Regions from separate parts of the Homo sapiens genome. Here region 2 is linked to region 1. The links come from fine-mapping of genetic effects on gene expression. Tissue or cell type: naive CD4 T cells. Region 1 holds a variant in brackets; the other region holds the start of a gene. All regions are shown on one strand. Distances are from middle to middle.

Evidence for each region. PIP is the estimated chance that this variant, and not a neighbour inherited with it, causes the effect.
Region 2: CCDC18 starts here. The variant in region 1 is fine-mapped to the expression of CCDC18 in naive CD4 T cells (Schmiedel 2018, PIP 0.95).

Annotation. Positions count from the first base shown.
Region 1 is chr1:93,100,329-93,108,484 of GRCh38, forward strand. The region is part of intron 1 of MTF2 (metal response element binding transcription factor 2); the gene reads left to right. Among named protein-coding and RNA genes, the nearest start is that of MTF2, 25 kb to the left of the region's middle. The variant G/T (reference allele first, on the strand shown) is at 4,551.
Region 2 is chr1:93,176,075-93,182,872 of GRCh38, forward strand. CCDC18 (coiled-coil domain containing 18) reads left to right here and starts at 4,650. Exons shown (of 29, transcript NM_001378204.1): 1 at 4,650-4,778. It overlaps TMED5 (transmembrane p24 trafficking protein 5), which reads right to left and starts at 4,339. Exons shown (of 4, transcript NM_016040.5): 1 at 3,980-4,339. The coding sequence starts at 4,168. RefSeq lists enhancers at 3,720-3,869, 4,740-4,949 and a silencer at 4,400-4,679.

The DNA.
Region 1 (8,156 bases):
GAGTCTCACTCTGTCGCCCAGGCTGGAGTGCAGTGGCATGATCTCCGCTCACTGCAACCTCCGCCTCCCAGGTTCACGCCATTCTCCTGCCTCAGCCTCCTGAGTAGCTGGGACTACAGGCACCTGCCACCATGCCTGGCTAATTTTTTAGTATTTTTAGTAGAGACGGAGTTTCACTGTGTGTTAGCCAAGATGGTCTTGCTCTCCTGACCTCATGATCTGCCCGCCTCGGCCTCCCAAAGTGCTGGGATTACAGCCGTGAGCCACCACCCCCAGCTGTTTGTATTGTTTCTAAAACTAAGGAGTAGAGCTGGCCTTTAAGCTGCTTGCTTTATGCTTTCTGTCCTTTAGGTTCAACCCTGGTTCTCTTTGACATTCTACTTTCAGGGAAACCTTAACCAGAAAGAAGGCAACGAGTCTCAGGCTTCATTTTACATACCTGTCTCAAGAGATAAAAGAGAATTCCTTCTTCATAGCTTTAATGCAGTGCCAAGCTTAAGCAGATTACCTGTTGCTTCCCTTATACCTGGGCCTTACTTTGGCCCTGTTTGGCCTCATGAATTTGACTATATCTGTATGAAAGTTTTCACCAAAAATAGCACTTTTCTTAGGTTATATTATATCCTTCACATGCTATTAACCCACATATTTACTACTTTTCCCAGGGAAGGGAAGAAATTGTGGGCATGGGAAAGATGGCAACTAAGAATTGAGATAGTTCTTTATTTAGTTCACTAGGAGAACAGATTGAGGAATGGATTGGGAAGAATTAATCCATTTTCCCTAAACCACACTATTTCTGAATTAAACATCCAGTTTTCAACTTCTTGAATCAGGGTCTTACTTATTCTGGGGTAGTAAACCAAGAAAGAGTTACTGGCTTGAACACTTGGTCTCAAGGGAAGAAACTTATTTGTCCAGGCAATCTCTTTCAAGATGTATATGACTAGCAGTGATCCAGTGGTAGTGACTATGAGCCCTCTCTCCCAATCTTTTTATTGAGTTAAAATACATGTAACAAAATTTACTATCTTAACCTTTTTTTTTTTTTTTTTTTTTTTTTTAAAAGGAGATAAGGTCTCACTCTGTTTCCCAGGCTGGAGTGCAGTGGTGTGATTCCAGCTCACTGCAGTCTCGAACTCCTGAGCTCAAGTGATCCTGCAGCTATGTGCCATCACACTTGGCAAATTTTTTAAAAATTTTCTGTAGGAATGTGGTCTTGCCATGTTGCTCAGGCTGGTTTTTTTTTTTTTTTTTTTTTTTTTTTTTGAGACAGGGTCTCCCTGTTACCCAGGCTGGAATGCAGTGGTGCAGTCACAGCTCACTGCAGCCTCGACCTCCCAGGCTCACGCAATTCTCCCATCTCAGCTTCCTAAGTAGCTGGGACTATAGGCACATCCCACTATGTCTGGCTGATTTCAAAGAAATATTTTGTAGAGCCTGGATCTTGTGTTGCTTAGGCTGGTCTTGAACTCCTGGCCTCAAGCACTCCTCCCGCCTTGGCCTCCCAAAGAGCTGAAGTTACAGGTGTGAGCCACAATGCCTGGCCCGTCTTAACCAATTTTCAGTGTACAGTTCACTGATATTAAATACATTGAGCCGTCTCCATAACACTTTTTTACCTTGTTAAACTGAAACTATATGCCCGTTGTATAACAACTACCTCTTTCTCCCTCCCCTCAATCCCTGGCTGCTTAATCAGGAGAGGCAGTTTGAATCTGAGATGAGGTGAGATGAGGGATATAGCTTTGTAGCTACTGACCAGAGTCAACTGAGTACCCAAAAGGAGTACTGATTCCCCAATCAAAAAGTCTGTTTCTCATGGCACTTTAGTATATGAACTCAGAAGAATGTTTGCAATATGTATAAGAAAGGGTTATAACATATAAGATGCTCTTGAAAATTATCATGACAGTGATTAACATTTCATTTAAAAATGGGCAAAGAACATCAACTGCAGTTTCCAGAAGACTTAGAAATTGTTAATAGGCTGGGCGTGGTGGCTCATGCTTATAATCCCAGCACTTTGGGAGGCCAAAGCGGAGGGATTACTTGAGCTCAGGAGTTTGAGACCTGCTCCCATTCCTACTAAAAATTATTTTTAAAAAATCAGGTGGGCGTGGTGGCATGGTGTGTGCCTGTAGTCCCAGCTGCTTGGGAGGCTGAAGTGGGAGGATCCCTTGAGCCCGGGAGATTGAGGCTGCAGTGACCCATGATTGCACCACTGCACTTCAGCCTGGGTGACAGAGAGAGACCCTGTCTCAAAAAAAAAATTGTTAACAAACCTATGAGAAACATGCTTTTTTACTACTACTAATAGAGTTGTAGATAGAAATAGAGTGTGTGTTGTCAAACAGCAAAAGAATGATAATTCTTCCCGTTGGTGAAGGTGTGGTGAGAGTGTGAGTTGGTACCTTTTGGGAGAATAATTTGATAATACCTATGATATTTAAAAATACACATATGAGGATGGGGGGATATGGGTATATAAATGAAATAATTTTAGCCATGAAATTTTATGGGCCAGGCACGGTGGCTCACGCCTGTAATCCCAGCACTTTGGAAGGCCGAGGCGGGCAAATCACGAGGTCAGGAGTTCAAGACCAGCCTGGCCAACATAGTGAAACCCTGTCTTTGCAAAAATATGAAAAAAATTAGCCGGGCATGGTGGTGGGCGCCTGTAGTCTCAGCTACTTGGGAGGCTGAGGCAGGAGAATTGCTTGAACCCGGGAGGCAGAGGTTGCAGTGAGCCAAGATCGCACCACTGCACTTCAGCCTGGGTGACACAGTGAGACTAGCTCAAAAAAAAAAAGGAAATTATAATTGAAACTGGGTGTCACTTGATGGTTCATTATACTTGTTTTGTCTACGTTTGTAATTTTCTATTATAAAAAGGAAAAATATACGTAGTATTTTATTATATATATATTAATTCTCTTTATTATTTATCCTATATAGTAGTTGGGAATGTAGAAGAATGAAGTTTATATTACTGCTTATGTTAAAACATTGGAAACATCCTAAATGTTCCTCCATTGGGTAATGGTTGGAAAGCAGTTTAGCAGCTGATGAAAAGATTATTTTATGTGCTTTTATTTTATATTTACGTAACAGATGGAAATTACATTGTTCAAGATACATTGTTATGTGAGAAAATTTATAGAATAATATATATAATGTCCTATATTTTATTAAAAACATTTATATGAATTATAAATATGTAGTACAAATAAGAATCAGGAGATTAACTTTTTTTATGGGAGGAGATTGCATGGAGCATTTTCATTTTTAACTATATGTTTCTATATTATTCTAACATCAGCATGTTTACCTTTGTAATCAGAAAGGAAGTAATAAATTCTAAAATTAGAAAAATTAATTTGACTTCTAATAAAGGTCACATTCTAGCAAAGAGGGAAGTAATCAGTGATAGTAATGGGGTGGGGGAAACTGCATAGAGGAAAACCCTTAGGGGAGGAAAATGTGCAACGATGTTTATCCTACTTACGTTTGAGTTGTGACATTATGGGTAATTTACTCTTTTCTTGCTTTGTTTTCTGTAAGATTTTTTTGGGCAGAGAAATTTTAAAAGAAGATACTGCTTTTACACGTTATTTATGTATGTATTTTTTGGTTTTTGTTACAGGTTGTCTAGGCTGGAGTGCAGTGGTGAAGTCATGGCTCACTGAAGCCTCTACCTCCTGGGCTCAAGTGATCCTCCCACCTCAGCCTCCTGAGTAGCTGAGACCACAGGCGTATGCCACTACACCCAGCTTTTTTTTTTTTTTTTTTGTAGAGACAAGGTCTCACTGTGTTGCCCAGGCTGGTCTCAAATTCCTAGGCTCAAGTGATCCTCCTGCCTCAGCCTCCCAAAGTGCTAGGATTACAGGTGTGAGCCACCATGCCTGGTACAAATGATCTCTCTATTAATGCAGTTTTATATAGGATTTATGTTTATGTGGGTAAAAGGTTGATGTGTATTTGTCTTAAATGTGAATGAAAGTAGAGTCTATTTTTTACTTAAAGCAAAACAGATGATTTGTGCTTAGAGACATTAGATTAAAAATGTACCCCGGGCGCTGTGGCTCAGGCCTGTAATCCCAGCACTTTGGGAGGCCGAGGCGGGTGGATCACAAGGTCAGGAGATCAAGACCATTCTGGCCAACATGGTGAAACCTTGTCTCTACTAAAAATACAAAAATTAGCTGGGCGTGGTGGCATGCACCTGTAATCCCAGCTATCCGGGAGGCTGAGGCACAAGAATTGCTTGAACCCAGGAGGTGGAGGTTGCAGTGAGCTGGGATCGTGCCACTGTACTCCAGCCTGGTGACAGAGCAAGACTCCATCTCAAAAAAAAAAAAAAAAAAGTAGATAAAGATGAAAAGTTAAACTCTTTAAATATTGGTTAGATAAAAAAATTAACTCCTTAAATATAGGCGTTTCTTGACTTGAACTATATAAATTCTGCATAATCTTTCTGCCGTTTATGTATCATGCCCTATGCAGAGATTGAGGATACAAGTGTGAATAAGAGACAGACATTCTCGGCC[G/T]GGCGCGGTGGCTCACGCCTGTAATCCCAGCACTTTGGGAGGCCGAGGCAGGCAGATCACGAGGTCAGGAGATCGAGACCAAGGTGAAACCCCGTCTCTACTAAAAATACAAAAAGTTAGCCGGGTGTAGTGGCGGGCGCCTGTAGTCCCAGCTACTCGGGAGGCTGAGGCAGGAGAATGGCGTGAACCTGGGAGGCGGAGCTTGCAGTGAGCCGAGATAGCGCCACTGCACTCCAGCCTGGGTGACAGAGCGAGACTCCGTCTCAAAAAAAAAAAAAAAAAAGAGACAGACATTCCCTGTTTGGGGGGAGGTTAGTGGGTTATATTGAAGTGGGCCGAAGACTGAAAAGGGGAGGAGACTATAGGAGTGGAGACATTAAGCGTGTATAACTTTACCCCGAGGTTTGCTTGCAAATGGGAGGAAAGAGTAGGAAGTGGTGGGAACGGAGCACAAAGAATCAAGAGAATTTAGTTATTCTACCCCCCATCCCCAAGATCCTTGCAAGTTTTTAAGCATAGTTGAATGCTAATGGGAGGGTGCCCAGAGAGAAGATTTATTGAATGCTGGCTCTGGTTTGTATCCTATAATAAACTTCATCAAGTTATAATCTGTTTTGCAGTTGTAGTTTCCTCATGTAAAAAGGGATCTGTAAAATCTCATCTGCAAAAATATCTCTAAAGCAGTGATCTGAGTATTAAATTACCTCTATATATCTACTGCCTGGCACAGTATGTGGCTCATAATAGGGACCCAAAAATGATTTGTGAATGAATATGTTGAATGTTGTTTGTGTGTGTGTGTGTTTTTTTTTTGAGACCAGAGTCTTGCTCTTTTCACCCAGGCTGGAGTGCAATGCTGCGGTCTCGGCTCACTGCAACCTCCACCTCCCGGGTTCAAGCAGTTCTCCTGCCTCAGCCTCCTGAGTAGCTGGGATTACAGGTGCCAGCCATCACGCCCGGCTAATTTTTGTATTTTAAGTAGAGACGTGGTTTGGCCATGTTGACCAGGCTGGTCTCAAACTCCTGACCTCGTGATCTGCCCGACCCGTTCTCCCAAAGTGCTGGAATTACAGGCGTGAGCCACCATGCCCGGCCATGAATGTGTTGAATGTTTAATGTAGGGTTAGGGACTTGGTAATCTCAGTAATTTTTTCCTGGAGGTTTGACTGTGAATGGAAGGGAAAAAATGAGGAGGTGGTGGGAAGGGGGCATAAGGAATCAAGGGTAACTATAATTAGGTTAGGTCTCATTTGAGACACAGCACACCAGAAATATTAGGAGAAGCAGGGCATAAACACTAGGAGATGGAAAAATAAAAAAATGTTTGATACCTTATGACCTAAGGATGTGCTATGCAGCAGGAGTAGTACAGTGGAGAGTAAGACAGAGACAGACCTTGCCATCCTGAAAGAAGGGGATAATTTATTGAAATAATAGCAAAGCATATGAAACTGGGAATGTTTGCAATTTTTATTTTTGTACAGTTTCTACTTTGGAATTCTAGGTCTTAACGCAGACCTGCCATGGCATTCTACTGAGGTCATTTTTCACCCATGATTGATTAATTGTTCAGGCTTTGGCTATTTTTTTTTTTTAACTGAAGGGATGCAAAATCCCTCAAGTGAACACTGAACTTAAAGCCTTTTTTTTTTTTTTTTGAGACAGACTTTTGCTTTTGTTGCCCAGGCTGGAGTGCAATGGTGCGATCTTAGCTCACTGCAACCTCCACCTCCTGGGTTCAAGACATTTTCCTGCCTCAGCCTGCCAGGTAGCTGGGATGACAGGCATACGCCACCACACCAGGCTAATTTTGTATTTTTAGTAGAGACGGGTTTTTTCTCCATGTTGGTCAGGCTGGTCTTGAACTCCCAGCCTCAGGTGATCTGCCCACCTCGGCCTCCCAAAGTGTTGGGATTACAGGCGTGAGCCACCGCATCCTGCCCCTTAAAGCTTTTTTCAAAGTTGATTGCTAATAGAGTTATTCCCATACTGTGAAGCCGTTAAATTGTTTCAAAATCTGGAGAAAGAGGATTCTTACCCTCTCCTTGAGCATCCCTGATGATAATTCATTGTGATTCTTCCTGCATTTTTACTTCTGTTCTCTTGCACTGATCTTGTCAAACATTTAAACTTTTTAACCCCTCTAATTATACTACCAAAAGTGCCTTCTCCTCACAGCTGACTATGGCACAGAAAAAACAATGTTAGATAAAATTGCTTTGTGCCTTAGCATGAATCAAGGCAGCGGCATCAAACTGTACTTGTATTCTTCATTGTGTACTAACGGTAAAAAATATAAACACACACACGTACCCCCAAACCTTATTTCACTTAAGAATGTTTTTTGTTTGTTTGTTTGTTTTTGAGATGTAGTTTTGCTCTGTTGCCTAGGCTGGAGTGCAGTGGTGTAATCTTGGCTCATTGCAACGTCCGCCTCCCAGGTTCAAGCGGTTCTCCTGCCTCAGCCTCCCGAGTAGCTGGGATTACAGGCACGCGCCACCATGCCTGGCTAATTTTGTATTTTTAGTAGAGATGGGGGGTTTTGCTATGTTGGCCAGGCTTGTCTTGAACTCCTGGCCTCAAATGATCCACCTGCCTCGGCCTTCCAAAATGCTGGAATTACAGGCATGAGCCACCGTGCTGGCCAGGTTTTTAATATGTGTGATAAAATAGAAATGGCATAAGGCACTTGTGCCATTGTTTGAGTTGCCAGCTGAACTAGCAGCTTTTTCATGGAACACCATTTTTACTTGAAACAGCCACTTAGTTCTGTATAAGGCAGGTATTTTCTTGAAGTGACAATCTACGTTTTATATTGACCTTAATTACCATTTTTTTTTTCGTTTGTTCTTGTGAATTCAAGTTAGCATCTTGTGTCTGTCCTTCCTTCCATTTTTCTCTTTTCTTTTCTTCTTTTCTTTTGACAGGTTCTCTCTCTGTTGCTCAGGCTGGAGTGCAGTGGCACAATCACAGCTCACTGCAGTCTCGACCTCCTGGCCTCATATAGTCCTCCCACCCCAGACTCCTGAGTAGCTGGGACCACAGGCACGTGCCACAATGCCCGGCTAATTTTTATTTTTTAATTTTTTTAGAGACATTCTCCCTTTGTTGCCCAGGCTACTCTTGAATTCGGGGTCCTCCTGCCTCAGCCTCCCAAAGTGCTGGGATTACAGGCGTCAGCCATGCTGCACCTGGCCTGTGTCATTTCTTTGAAACAGTTGAAACAGTTTTGCTCCTACATACTTCCTTTATGCTATTATTGCCAAATATATTACATTTCTATATATTATGGGTCTAACAATACAATTATGTACATATTGTTTTATATACTTGCTTTGGAGGGAATATGCATTTATGCTGTCTTTTATAATTACTTTTGTTGGTATTCTTTGTGTGTGTGTGTGTGTATGTGTATGTACATGTATTTGAATTTCCTTCTGGGTTTACTTACTTTCAATCGTAGTAGTATTCATTGTAAGATGTCTCTGCTAATAACAAATTCAGTTTTTGTTTATCTGGGAGTTTGTATTTCACCTTCATTTTTGAAAGACAGTTTTGCTGGATATAAGATTCTCTGGTGACAGCACCCACTCCCTGCAGCCTGCT
Region 2 (6,798 bases), 75 kb after region 1:
TCAGTGGCGTATTACTGGTCTCTGCAAAAGACCCATATCCTTAACAAGGACCTAAAAGCCCACAATGATTTGGTTGCTGTTGCTACTGACTTCTCTAAAGTAGACTTGTACCACTTTTCTCTCTCTGTATCCTATCTTTCAGGACCTCAAAGGTATCTTTCTCTCTTCTTCCTTAGTATCTTGGCACGTTGTTGTTCTTTTTTACCCATTGTCTCGTACCACTCATTCCATTATGCCTAGTGAAAGTCTGATAATTCTGTAGATCTTAACTCTACTTCTGGATGTCTTTCAATTTCCAGATAAAATGAAGTCCTCCTACTGAGCCCACTCATAGTCTTATGAACTTACCTTCATTACCCCTAGTAAATATTTTGACATGTATTTGTGTAATAATTTGATTAATTAATACTTGATTGTATGAGGGCACAGACTATACACACACACACACACACAAACATATATATATATATTTTTTTGAGGCAGGGTCTCGCTCTTGTCACCGAGGCTGGAGTACAGTGGTGTGATCACAGCTCACCATAGCCTCAACCTCCTGGGCTCAAGTGATCCTCCCACCTCAGCCTCCCAAGTAGCTGGAACCACAAGTGTGTGCTACCATGCCTGGCTAACTTTATTTTTGGTAGAGATGGGGTCTTGCTATGTTGTCCAGGCTGGTGTGAAACGCCTGTGCTTGAGTGATCCTCCCACCTTGGCCTCCCAAACTGTTGGGATTACAGGTGTGAGCCACTGCACCTAGCTGATATTTTCACTCACCATTGTATCCCTAGCAACTTGGATAGTGCTGACACATATCAAGCACGCAAGAATGACTTAAATTTCTAAATGGATTATCTATTTTAGTCATAAGATACATGAATTGGCATTAAAGTTTTCAAGAACCTCTATCAATATAATGTGAGGCTAGTCAATTATCCAAAAAGTATTCTCCTAAAACCTAAAAAGTAAGAAATTAGTAAAATTTTCAATAAGTAACCAAGGACAAAACTAGATTGTTCTATAAAATTTTAAAAACTAACTTTAAGACAAAAATTAGTAGGATGTAGTTACTGGGAAATTAAACAAGTTGGGAAATACAAACAGGGTGGAAGATGATAGTTACCCTACACATCTCACCAACACTGTCTAGGATTACAGACAAATGATTTTACCTCTTTCCTTAATCAAAACAAATTGTTTAGGGAGAATGTTTTAAAGGAATAGTCCCAGCCGGGCGCGGTGGCTCACACCTATAATCCCAGCACTTTGGAGGCTGAGGCTGGCAGATCACTTGAGATCAGGAGTTTGGGACCAGTCTGGCCAACATAGTGAAACCCCGTCTCTACTAAAAATACAAAAATTAGCTGGGTGTGGTGGCACATGCCTGTAATCCAGCTACTCGGGAAGCTGAGGCGGGAGAATCACTTGAACTCGGGAGATGAAGGTTGCTGTGGGCCAAGGTCGCGCCACTGCACTCCAGCCTGGGTAACAGAGTGACAGAGGGAGACTCTGTCTCAAAAAAAAAAAAAAAAAAAAAAAAAAAGGAACAGTCCCTTTAAGAGTGACTAAAGATGTAAAGAATAAAGCTAAACCAAGCCAGCTACATAACTATAGAGGTATAAATGTAAAATTAACATTCATTGATTATTTACTATGTGTCAGGGATGATCTATGAGCATTTTTTAATAGACTACTTTACACTGAATATGAGCATTTATTAACTCATGCTTTTTCAAATCAACTCTATGATGTAGTTACAATTATTATCTCTATTTTACAAGTGAGAAGATCACATAAGTTTTAAGTAGGCAGAGTCAAGATTTGAACCCAGGCTAAGGTTAAGAGCTGGTGCTCTTAACTATAAGAGGACAGTAGTTAAAATAGATATCTTCCCTAATATGTGTGTAAATACTGAAGATTTTTTTATTAATACAAATTGTTTTCTTATCTAGACTATTTCACTAGCCCTCTAGTTAGTTTCCTTGACTCTAATTTTGCTCTCCTTAAATCCATTTTCCACACTGCATCCAGTGATCTGCTTAAATCTTAAATGGACTTGTACAAAATTAAGGAAAACCTACTCAGCACGGCAAACAAGGCTATGATTCATGCTTAATGACCCCAGCCTTCTGGCCTCTCCGATGTCCTTTTCTGCTACTCCCACCCTAGACTTTATATGTCTTAAAGTCTAATACAAACTCAGTACTTGTAGTGTCCACTACACACTAACCATCCCCACTTACACTATGTATTTTAAGAACTATGGATCTTTTTGTTCGCTTTTCTGAAATGCCCCTTGTTCCTGGCATTTTCGTCTCAATTAAGCATCTTTCTGGATTAAATTTTATTTTCTCCAGGAATCCTCTTCTGAAACCCTTAGAAGTGACCCTCCTCTACTGGTACTTAGCCATCCTTTATTGAAATTACCTGTTTATGAGCCAGTAACCTTTATTAAGCTCTTTGAGAAGAGGGATTCTTTCTTTCTCTTTTACCTACATCCCGCACAACCCAGCTCCCCCTCCGTCTCCCCCACCTCCATGCACAATTCCTGGCACGTGTTAACTGTTCAGTAAATGTTGAACTTTTGAACTTTACTGGAAATCAAGAAACACTGAGTTTTAGCCTCAGTTTTGCTCACTATGTGATTTTAGATATTTTATTCTCTGTGCTTATCGTGTGTATCTATATACAACTTAATCCTAAAGTTCCATCGTATAAAAAATTCTACAACTTTTTATTTTGCTCTGTATGTGACAGTACCTGGTATTTAAAAACAATTCTCTACATCAACTTAAAAAATTAACATTTGATGATTATAATTAACTTCTAAAAAACTGAAAGATGAAACACATCAATGCCTTTTCTTTCCCCCCTGTACTGCTACCTGAAAACATCGGAATTTGCTGTGGAACGAACAAGATTTCTTCTAAGAAATTACCCCCTACCACCATGACTACATAAAATAAGGTAATTCCCAGCAAGAATATTATGCAGATACTAAAAAGAAAACATGCTAGGCATGGTGGCTCACGCCTGTAATCCCAGCACTTTGGGAGGCCGAGGCGGGTGGATCGCCTGAGGTCGGGAGTTCGAGACCAGCCTGGCCAACATGGTGAAACCCCGTCTCTACTAAAAATACAAAAATTAGCTGGGCATGGTGGCGCACGTCTGTAATCTCAGCTACTCGGAAGGCTGAGGCAGGAGAATCGCTTGAACCCGGGAGGCGGAGGTTGCAATGAGCCGAGATAGCGCCACTGCACTCCAACTCTAGCTTGAGCAACAAAGCGAGACTCCGTCTCAAAAAAAAAAAAAAAAAACAATGACACGAGGGAAATGCTTACAATGCTCAATGAAAAAATGAAAAGAAAGGTTATAAAGTTTTAATATACGATTTGATCTTTTGAAAATAATGGATATATAACTTAAACGGAAATGTATCATTAAATATAGCAACAGCGTCTTCCAAAAAATTTCAAAATCGGGCTTAATGCCAATTACACGATCATAATCCAAAAACCCTTAACTGAAGCAAAGACAGTGATTTGTAACATCTGAACTGTGTGAAAGGGGTGGGGGTGATTCAAACAAGTGTCATCACCTTGTCCAATGATGAAGGAGAACGTGTATCAGTTCTGCATTGTGAAATTCTCAGTATGAGAGCGTGTAGTGGCTAAGAAAAGCAGTGGGCGAATTAGGAAACAAAGAGAAAAGCCAGCGACATCACCAGTTCTGGCCTCCTTCCCACCGGAGGAAAGGGGAGAAGGCGGGTAGTCATCAATTCCAGGTCCAGCCTAAGTTCTGGGTCCCCGGCCCCAGCGAGAGCCTCGCCTCGCCTCGCGCGCCTGCGCGGAGCGGGCTGGCTTCCTGAACGGCCCTCGCCTCTTCACCACCAGGGCCGTCCACCAGAAGTTTCTAAACGGGTGAGAGGCGACAACGCAGTGCAGCTGGGTTAAAGGAAGGAGGCTGGTTTATCCTCCGCACTTACTTGGTACTCGATCTCCAGCGAGGCCTTCAGGGGCATGGGCTGGTAGAAGCACTCCTTCTGGCCGGCGGGAAGGGTAAAGGTGAAGTCGCTATCGAGGGAAGGTGTGAAGCCGGCCGCCCCAGGCAGCAGCACCGGAGGCAGAGCGGCCAGAAGGAGCACGGGGAAGGGCAGCCAGATCTTGTCGCCCATCCCTGCTGGGGCGATCCCGGGCTGAAAGAGGCGTCAGGTACTGTTGTCTCCGCTCCGCGTTTCCTCTCTGGACTCCTCGTGGTTGACAGGGAAATCTGGAGTCTGAAGAAACTCCAGGTGGCGGCCGCGGCGGCGGCGAACACTCCCTCCGAAAGAGAAGCGCAGTTCTCCAAAGGGTAGGGACTCTGGGCGGGGCTAGCAGTCCTATTCCGCAACCGCCTCAGTCTCGGCCCCCTCAGGCCAGGCGTGAGCGCCGCCCGCCTCTCCCCCTGACGGCCTCCGGTTCCCATGGCTTCCCCCACCAATGGGCATCATGGCGGTAATTGTGGGAAATGTAGTCCCGGGCGGGCTCCGCTAGTGGGCTCGGGCGCGCTCGCCGACCACGATCCCCGGCAAGCCCCGCGCCTTCGGCGGCGCCTCACGCAGTCTGCGCCGGGGCGGGGCAGTGACCGGGTAGGCGCGTCCCAACGGCTCCCGCGGCGGTTCGAATTCTGTGCTGCCGGGGTTCGCTGGTTCTCCGAGTTGTGTCCGAGGCTTCCACGCGCAGGGGCCCGGGAAAGGGTCAGAGGCTTCCTAACGCAGACTCGAGTGCGAAGCGCGCAGTCGCCGGGTGGGTCTCTCCCCAGCGACGATTTGGGTGGTGAGCGACTGCGCCTTGGCGTGGGGAAACCGGCTTACCTGGGGGAGTTCTGTTCCTTTCCCTCCCGGCACCTTGGATGCGCTGGGACTGGTCCTCGTGGTTGCTGAGCATGCTGCTCTGAACGGTTGTATTTTATTTGATGAAAAATAGGAGGCCGGGCGCAGTGGCTTACGCCTGTTACCTCAGCACTTTGGGATGTCGAGGCGGAAGGATTGCTTGAGCCCAGGAGTTCGAGGCCAGCCTTGGCAATATGGCGAGCCACTGTCTCTATAAAATTAAAAAAAAAAAAAAAAAGAGGAAACTGTCACTTCCGTCCCCCACCCCCGCCCCCGCTTCTTTCAGACGGATGTAAGATTAGCTGTGTCAAGCGATCTTGAGACAGGAGACTACTACATAAAGTTATGACTTCTTTCCAAAATGAGGAATCTTTTTCGACTACAGCCCATTGTATCACATACATAGGGTATAAAAGAACACTTGTCCTTCGTTTGATGGGTGTGCGTGTGCAAACCTACAAACACATTGTTAATTAGGGCCGAAAGATGATGTTGTTAAGGTCGGTGAGTAGGATGATGTGCTTTTCTAGGTATGCATAGTCAGTGAAGATAGCCTTTTTTGGGTAACTACTGTAAATTGAAGTTAAGGACATTCATTTGACAGTAAATGTCCCACTAGGAAAATGAAAACATTTTAGTATCAAATATATTCATTGCTACTGCAGAAGAGTTAGGGAGTTCTTTCTTTTTTTTTTGAGACCGAGTCTCACTCTGTCGCCCAGGCTGGAGTGCAGTGGCGCGATCTCGGCTCACTGCAACCTCCGCCTCCCAGGTTCAAGCAATTCTCTGCCTCAGCCTCCCGAGTAGCTGAGATTACAGGCGCTCGCCACCACCCCCGGCTAATTTTTTTGTATTTTTAGTAGATACGGGGTTTCACCATCTTGGCCAGGTTGGTCTTTAACTTTTGACCTCGTGATCCACCCGCCTTGACCTCCCAAAGTGCTGGGATTACCGGCGTGAGCCACCGCGCCCGGACTGGGAGTTATTTCTTGCATGGCAATACACAGATGTTGAACTAAAACCTGATTTAAGATGAAATATATAGTACCAAATGGTATTATAGAATTTGCCCAATTTTCTCTACCCTTTTCTCCTTCACCATCCTACAGAGAGCTAGAGATGTTGAATAGGTAAAGCAGGATGGGGACCTGATTTATTGACTTGTCTGCGAGAGTCTTGTCACTTAAGCAGAAGCAAATTTGTGGAAACAAAAAAGGGAAAGAGGATAGAACCAGTTTGTCTATTAAGATTACATAGTATCTCATTTAATTTCCTGCCACTTTCTTTCCATAAGGTGGGAGTTTTCTTTTTAATCTTCCTCCCTACATCTGAGAATTTTTGAGTGGGGAATAAATGTAACATACCATTCTAACTGGATGAGGGAAGGAAGGACAGTTTAGTATTCGTTAATTCATTCAAAATATTGAGCTTCTCTAAGTACATTGCGGTCCTGAACGTAATGCACAGGACTTTTAACCTTTTGGAACTTGGGATGGGATCAGAATGCTAAGAAGGGCGTTGAAGGAGATGCTACAGTGAAAAAGGTAAATGGGATCTGAAAGAGGAATGTAATTTTAAGATTGCGCAGAAAGCTCTGTAGTAGTGGAGATTATAAAGCTTTAGTTTTTTATTGTATTAATTACAATAATAAAATGTGATGCTTTATTGTGATTTTTATATGCAAAGAAATTTAGTAGTTTCACAACCCTAGAGATACTCATCCACTGAAGAAACAAAAGCTTTTCTTCATTTCTATGAGTTGACCTGCCAAATGTTATTTTGATCCCTGTGGTTGTGACTTGTAAATGTGTCTTTTTAAAATTTTATAACTATTGGGCGTAGGAGGAGGAGACAGCTTTTATCTGGTAATAAATTCCCTTCTAACAAAATATGAATGTAATGATACCATTTAATCAGATGTCCAGTACTTGTAA